3 separate regions of the Homo sapiens genome follow, and all the other regions are linked to region 1. Evidence: fine-mapped expression QTL. A gene starts in region 1. Each other region holds a variant in brackets. All regions are shown on one strand. Distances are from middle to middle.

Evidence for each region. PIP is the estimated chance that this variant, and not a neighbour inherited with it, causes the effect.
Region 2: its variant is fine-mapped to the expression of LINC01504 in whole blood (TOPMed, PIP above 0.99).
Region 3: its variant is fine-mapped to the expression of LINC01504 in whole blood (TOPMed, PIP 0.98).

What each region holds. Positions count from the first base shown.
Region 1 is chr9:72,304,440-72,307,204 of GRCh38, reverse strand. It overlaps LINC01504 (long intergenic non-protein coding RNA 1504), which reads right to left and starts at 1,769. Exons shown (of 5, transcript NR_110952.1): 1 at 1,580-1,769.
Region 2 is chr9:72,334,557-72,337,321 of GRCh38, reverse strand. It overlaps LINC01504 (long intergenic non-protein coding RNA 1504), which reads right to left. Exons shown (of 5, transcript NR_110952.1): 4 at 1,825-1,930. Among named protein-coding and RNA genes, the nearest start is that of ZFAND5, 29 kb to the left of the region's middle. The variant T/G (reference allele first, on the strand shown) is at 1,338.
Region 3 is chr9:72,324,622-72,327,386 of GRCh38, reverse strand. All of the region lies in intron 2 of LINC01504 (long intergenic non-protein coding RNA 1504), which reads right to left. Among named protein-coding and RNA genes, the nearest start is that of LINC01504, 21 kb to the right of the region's middle. The variant C/T (reference allele first, on the strand shown) is at 1,372.

The DNA of each region.
Region 1 (2,765 bases):
GGACAATCTCCTGGGAATCACTTAACCTTAGAGGTAATTGTGGAGTGAAAAATTCATTCAAGAGATTGCCTGAGAAGATAAATGCAAAAGAGGCACTAAAAAAAACGTGATTAATGCTCTCAAAGGCAATGGGCAGGGGGGATCAGGATAATAATGAGACTTTACCATTTCACAAAAGATCTTTGCATGTGTCATCTCTGTATTGCAGATCAGCCCTGAAAGACAGGAACCTCCCATATCATCATTTTATAGATGTGGAACTGAAGCTCAGCCACAATTAAGTGACTTGCCCAAAGCCACACAGCCAGTAAAGGACAAGGCCAGGACTTAAAGGTGGATCTTCCAATTCTAAATCCATTACAATCTGCTCTAAAGGACTGTCAAATGTGATGTTTCACTGAGGAATGATGACTTTGAATAGCACCATTTTATGGTAGAAGGCAAACTATCTTTCTGCCTTGAATACAATAGTTCCCCGTTAACTGAGGTCAACTGTGGTCTGAAAATATGTGAGTACAGTACAATAAGGTATTTTGAAAGAAAGAGAGAGACATTTATATAATTTTTTTTTTGAGACAGGGTCTTGCTCTGTTGTCCACAGTGGAGTGCAATGGCACAAACATAGCTCACTGCAGCCTCAACCCCCTGGGTTTAAGCAATCCGTCTGCCTCAGCTTCTGAGTACTAGGACCACAGGCATGCGCCACTATGCCTGGCTAAGTGTTTTATTTTTTGTAGAGATGGGGTTTTGCCAAATTGCCCAGGATCCTGGGCTCAAGGGATCCTCCCGCCTCTGCCTCCCAAAGTTCACAGCCATAAGCCACCTTGCCAGCCTTACATAACTTTTATTACAGTATATTGTTGTAATTTTTTAATTTTATTATTATTGTTGTTAATCTCTTACTGTGCCTAATTTATAAATTAAACTTTATAATTGTTATGTATGTATAGGAAAAACATAGTATGTACAGGGTTTGGTAAAATCTGATTTCAGGCATCTAATGGGGGGCTTGGAAGGTATCCCCCCAGATAAGAGGGGACTACTGTAATGTTCACCTGAATAATTTAGGGGAATGTTTAGAAGCCTTAGTTATAGACATTGACTCTCAGGCTATCCCCAGTCTCTAAATGTTTCCTGTGTCAACATACTCAGTTTCTGAGGGACACAAATTAAATATAGGTTCCAGAAGACACTTCAGGCAAATATACCCATATTAATACAAAATAGGACTTAATCCCAAACCCATATGGGTTTTCTACCCTGGTGACCTCAGCTGGGCTATTTCTTGGCTTCTGGCTGAATAAGGCTTAGTATAAAGGCAAACCAAAGATCATGGGCTTGAGTGTTGCACTCGACATCACATGCGCTTTTGCTGCTAATCTTGCAGGAAATTACAAAATAAAATTAACTGAGGTACAGCTTGTACACTAAACTACATATACAGTAAAGTACACAAACCTTAACTGTACAGCTTGATAAAGTTTAACGTATGTATACCCCGTGTAACCCCTACCATCAAGATATAAAACGTTTCTGGTACCTGCAGGGCATTTTAGAATATCTATAAAAACGAACTTACCCACTCTAAACTGTCAATGGGAGGAGGATGGCCTTTGCCTACGGTCTTAGCAGGACAAGCAAATAAAAGCACTAATTTTTAAATTTCAGGAAGTCTTTAGCTCTTCAGAGGCAGACCCTATGCTTAGAATAAGGGTGGGTCAGGCGTGAGCTGGCCAGCACTGTTTCCGGCTGGGTCTCTGCAGCATTTCCTCTTTCTGTAATACTTCAGCTGGTTTTCCTCAGAAGAACCACTCCTTTCCACGTGTTTGAGTCACACTAATCCCATCCTCCTGGAGCCAGGGTTGGATGATGGGAATGAGGCCTAAGCCAATGAGCGTGCTGCATTCCCAGCCCACACTGACAGGCCTAGGGGTAGGCCCAATGTAAAGCAAGGAGAGTTTTGCTGAGACAGGGAGCCAGAATCAGGAAGGGTGGAGCCAACACACTGAGACAGAAATCAGATCTGCTGACACGGCCGAGCTCCCTTATCTACCCACGCCCGAAACAAGATCCACCCTTGGACTTTTAAGTTATAAGGCTCAGTAGATCCTCTTGTGTCAAGCAGCTTGAACTTTGTTTTCTGTCACTTGCAGTCAAAATGACCCAGTAAGTTTCTGGGAGGGCTAAGTTGTCCCCTGTAAGAGAATGAGAGGAATTTTTTCTTCTCTTAAAAGAGAGTGGGCATAGAAAGGAGGGGAAAAGGAAGAGAGGGAGGCTGGAGCCCGAATTGTGGCAGAAAAGGAATGAAAGATTTGCTTTTTAAGAACAAGGACAAGGATGATGAATATTGTATTCATGTTTTTTACATTTTATGCAAACTACTTTTACCTTTCCCAAACTCCAGCAAAGTTGACTACATATAAAAATGCCTGTGTGAGTGTGTGTGTGTGTGGGTGTGGGTGTGGGTATGTGAGAGAGAGAGAGAGAGTGAGAGAGAGAGAGAGACAAGAGAAGAGAGAGGATGGGGGAGAAGAAGAAGGATGAGGAGGAGAGGAAGGCAGGCTGGCTGGCTGGCCAGGATCTACATTGTATTGAGGTGATACAGAATAAGGAACACAAGAGGCAATGAAAAGATTATCTCTAAACTCAACAAATTCAGCAAAATAGGAGTTTGAAGCCAGAACTGATCATGAGAATGTAAGCCCTCTGGCAATGCATGGAATTGTTGAAGACTGAGTTGGACTTCCGCAAGTCTTGGTATGGGG
Region 2 (2,765 bases), 30 kb before region 1:
TAGAGCCCCCGAGGGTTTGATGCATTTAGCAAATGACTATTTTATGTGCTTTTTAATTTTCAGATGCTTCCATAAATTCATAGTCTTAAAAGGAAGACATTTCTTCAGAGCTCTGTAAATCTTACAGTCTGAGTCCTAAGGGAGTTGGTGGAGGTGGGAATACTTTGTATTTGCTAAGCATGACAATAATGTGGCAAAGATTTTAAGACTGTGCTCCAGCTGCAAACAAACTTTGCCAATTTCTTCCTTAGGAAAAATGAAAATAATTTTTTTTTTGAGATGGAGTCTTGTTCTGTCACCCAAGCTGGAGTACAGTGGCACCATCTTGGCTCACTGCAACCTCTGCCTCCCAGGTTCAAGCAATTCTCCTGCCTCAGCCTCCCAAGTAGCTGGGACTACAAGCATACTCCATCACACCTGGCTAATTTTTGTGTTTTTAGTAGAGATGGGGTTTTACCATGTTGCCCAGGCTGGTCTCGAACTCCTGACCTCAAGTGATCTGCCCGCCTTGGCCTCCCAAAATGCTGGGATTGCAGATGTGAGGCACAGTGCCAGCCTAGAAAAATGAAAATAATTCTTATGGTGATTACAGCTCATTCTTATCCAGCCGCCCACTCCCAACATCTCTTTTTTTATATCTTGTAAACTCATTTGTTGTAATTAAGTCAATTAAATTTCTTTCAAAAAGTTCTATAATTCAGACTTGCCTGTACTTACCTGTTTTCTATTTAGAAATAAGATTGATGAAGTATTGAAATTTTAGCTTTAGCTATAATTTGCTAAGTGGATACAGGAATTTTAAAAATGAATTTGCATTCTCCTAACATTTAAAGGGAATATTACCAGAATTGGGAAATTTCAGAGGGTAACTGGAAATGGAGATGAGAATAACGTGATTTATTGGGTAGGAGGAGAGATGGACACGCCAGGACACTTTTGAAGGTTTATGTACCATGTCTGGCCATACTCTAGAAATAATAGAGAATTTTATTAAAAAGAAAGTAACAGGCTGGGCGCGGTGGCTCACGCCTATAATCCCAGCACTTTGGGAGGCTGAGGCGGGCAGATCATGAGGTCAGGAGATCGAGACCATCCTGGCTAACACGGTGAAAACCCATCTCTACTAAAAAAAATACAAAAAATTAGCCGGGCGTGGTGGTGGGCGCCTGTAGTCCCAGCTACTCGGAAGGCTGAGGCAGGAGAATGGCATGAACTTGGGAGGCGGAGCTTGCAGTGAGCCGAGATTGTACCACGGCACTCCAGCCTGGGCGACAGAGCCAGATTCCATCTCAAAAAAAAAGTAACATTGCAGTCAATAATCAAGATAATTTTTCTTA[T/G]AAATCTAAATTTCTATTTATTTATTTATTTTTAGAAACAGCATCTTGCTCTGTTGCCCAGGATGGAGTGCAGTGGTGCGATCACAGCACACTATGGCCTTGAACTCCTCTGCTCAAGTGATTCTCCTCCCACCTCAGCCTCCCTAGTAGCTGGAACTACATGTGCAAGGCCAGAAATCTAAACTTTTTACTTCATTTTTAGTTAAGGGTTTTAGTCCTCTTTTCTTACTCCTTAATAAATTACTTGGACATACTTACATGAACAGAGAATAAATAATTATTTTTCTTCTCTTCATGATGATTAGGAAATAAATTGTTCACTGGGCACGGTGGCTCACGCCTGTAATCGCAGCACTTTGGGAGGCTGAGGCAGGCGGATCACCTGAGGTCAGGAGTTCGAGACCGTCTCGGCCAACATGGAGAAACCCCGTCTCTACAAAAATACAAAAGTTAGCCAGGCATGGTGGTGGGCGCCTGGAGCAGCTACCTGGGAGGCTGAGGCAGGAGAATCTCTTGAACTCGGGAGGTGGAGGTTGCAGTGAGGCGAGATCGGGCCATTGCACTCCAGCCTGGGTGACAGAGCAAAACTCCGTCTCAAAAAAAAAAGAAAGAAAGAAAAATAAATTATTCTTCCTTAATTAGCTTGATTTAATTATTCCATAATGAATACATATACATGAAAATATCACATTGTACCTCATAAATATATGCAATTATTAATTATCCATTAAAAATAAAATACATTTTTTAAAAGAATTAAAATAAAATAAATGGCTCCTCAGAGCAGAGAGATGTGAACTGAGCCTCAGGAAAACCGCAGGCTACTTCTGGGTCTGCCGTGAAGCAGCTGTGTGACCACAGACTAGTGCCTTGACCTCTAAGACCCTCAGTTTTCTTCACCTGTAAAATGAAGGCTTGGCTTTAGACAGTATATTCAGGTTCTTTCCAGCTTTAACATTTTAGGATTCTAGATGAGGAGAAAGACTCTTATTCAGAGACTCATTTCCTCTTCAATAGGACAGGATGAGAACTCAGAGGGTGTGGCCACTAACCTGTCTTTCCTGAGGCTCTCCTTGTCTTGTCTGGGCATTGGCTGGCCTCCTTACATGTCACCATGAGGCATTCTTCCTGGCCACCAATGTTTTGTTTAGACTTTCCCATACTATCTACCCAGAGTCTTTCAATTTGCTTCAAGCTTAACTGTGGTCAGTTCGGAGTTGAAATTCAAGTGCACAACGTGACAATGACGTCTGTGCCTTTGTTTCTGGAATAAATAGGTAAACTCTGAGGCGGAGAGGAAAGAGGGAGTGGTTCTTGCACTAGAGTGGAACTAACAGCCCATCTACTTCATAAGGCATCGATGAATTGAAAAAACAAAACTCTTTGCAGACCCCATTTCTTTCTTTTCTTTTCTCTTTTCTTTTCTTT
Region 3 (2,765 bases), 20 kb before region 1:
AGCAAGACTCCATCTCAAAAATAAATAAATACGTAAACAAATAAAATTTAAAAAAAAATCACAGACCACAAAGTAATACAAATCTGCCATGATCAAGGCCATCAGAGAAGTATAGATGAAGGCACTTAGAGGATGAGAGTTTACTTTGAAAATAAGCTAATAATTGAACTAGGTGATGGGTACATATGGGCATGTAGGTTGGGGTGTGTAGGGCTCCTTCTACGTAAGTGGAAGGAATAATGAAAGCAAATGTAAAGAAGTAGGATAGCATGGAGTATGTATTGAAAACAGCAAATTGATTTTGCTTTGGAACAGGGATCAATAAACTGGCCCATCCAGCCTACCATCTGTTTTTATATGTGCCCTGAACTAAGAATAATTTTCATATTTTAAATGGTTGAGAAAAAACAAGATAATTAAAAATTTATAACATGAAAATTATATTAAATTCAAATATTAGGATTCATAACTAAGCACAGCCACACTGTTTTGTTTACATATTGTCCATGGCTGCTTTCACACTACAATGGCAGAGTTGAGCAGTTGCGACAGAGACCACATGACTGAAGAGCCTAAAATATTTTCTGTCTGGTTTTTTTTTTTTTTTTGATGGAGTTTCCCTCTTGTTGCCCAGTCTGGAGTGTAATGGTGCAGTCTCAGCTCACTGCAACCTCTGCCTCCCAGGTTCAAGCGAGTCTCCTGCCTCAGTTTCCCCAGTAGCTGGGATTACAGGCAGATGCTACAATGCCCAGCCAATTTTTGTATTTTTAGTAGAGACAGGGTTTCACCATATTGGTCAAGGCTGGTTTTGAACTCCTGACCTCAGGTCATCTGCCCGACTCAGCCTCCAAAAGTGTTGGGATTACAGGCGTGAGCCACCATGCCCAGCCTCTATCTGGTTCTTTATAGAAAAAGTATGCGGCCAGGTGTGGTGGCTCACACCTGTAATCCCAGAACTTTGCGAGGCCAAGGCAGGCGGATCGCTTGAGCTCACAAGTTTGAGACCAGCCTAGGCAACATAGTGAAACCTTGTCTCTACCAAGAATACAAAAAAATTAGCTGGGTGTGGTGGTGTGCACCTGTGGTCCCAGCTACTCGGGTGGCTAAGGCGGGAGGATCGCTTGAGTCCCAGAGGTGGAGGTTGCAGTGAGCTGAGATCATGCCACTGCACTGCAGCCTGGGTAACAGAGTGAGACTCTGTCTCAAAAGAAAAAGAAAAGAAAAAGTTTGCCAACTCCTGCTTCAGAAGAACCCTCAGGGGCATAAAGGAAATAGCAGAAGAAGATATGCTGGTCCAGTATTGCCATTTGGCCTTTGGTAACAGCCTACATTCTTGACTTTGCTCAGCCTTTTTCTACCCACCTAAATTTT[C/T]CCATCCCAAATATTATCCTCTCAAGACCTTAATTGGTTATTTGCTAAGTAACCTGAGAGCTAATTTTGCGATCTTTTTAAAGCTGTGATTGAATCATAACAGTTTAATGTATAACTTATTACTCCTCCTAGGTAACATATTTGGAATTTAGGGGAACCCAAACCAAAAAATTGCTTCCCCCTGGCAGAACAGTGGGAAAGATATTTGCAAAAGTGAGCCTTCCTTCAACTTTCATGTCACACCTTATAGGCAGCCAATTCTACCTATCAAAAGCAAACTTGGTTGTTAGTTTTGCTGTTACCCTTTCAATTGGTTAAGTTACTAGTATGCCATTTGCTGCTAAGTTTACCCTTAGGGGAGAAAAATAACGGCAAGAATTACTTTACAATAATTGTCAACCACTGAGAGTTAAGTCTCTATGCCCCCTTTAGCTAATAAGGTAGGCCTGGGTAGCTATCATTAAGTCAAAGATTTTTTCATGAAGGAGGAAACAGCTCCCTGATGAATTTGAGATGAGATTAGAAATGCTGAAAGCAGTGTTCTCAAACTTTAGCATAGAGAAGAACCGCCAGAGGTCTGTTAAAATACGAATCCGCTAATCTTACCCCCAGAGAATCTGTGTCTCCAGTGGAACTCAGGAGTTATGGGGGGAAAAAAAATGATGAAGGATCCAAGCTACCTCCCACAAAGCAGTCTTTATATTTGGTTCTTTACTTGCTCCAAGAATCCCTAAGTTGTTAAAGTAACAGACAATGTAAGTAGACAGAAGCATCATTTTGAAAGACTTTCCTGTTCTCTCATTCTGTTTAACTGACCTTTATTCCCAGTGAGTAAACATGAATCAAACCCTAGTCTAAGTAAGAAAACGTGATTTGAGGGAAGGGCTGGATCTTTGAAAGCAGTATAGAATGGAGGTTAGGAAGGGAACTCTAGACAGAGGCTGCCTGATTCAAATCTCACCTCTGTCACTGGTGCTATGTGAGCTTGGGTGACAACTCGAATCTCTCTGTGCCCTCGTTCCTTCATCTGTAAAATGGGAATAACAATATTATCTATGTCTCAGAGTAGCTGTGAGCATTAAATGAGTTACTACATGTAAAAAGCATAAAATAGAAACTTTTAGTACATTTCAATAAATATATAAAAACTTATTGGAGAAACTCTTGTGTGACCTCACATACCTTGTAAGAGTGGCATGAGAATTAGAGCATGTTCATAATTAAACAATTATGATTGTGCTATTTACTCCAAGTTAGCCAGGGGCTTGTTCCTTAGAGACCACTGTCATTTTCTACATTTGTCCATGAAGTTAATCCACATATTTACAAATCCTAAATGTAACTTTACTTTTATTTTCAATAGGTAACAAGTATTAAGAACCATATCACAAGGA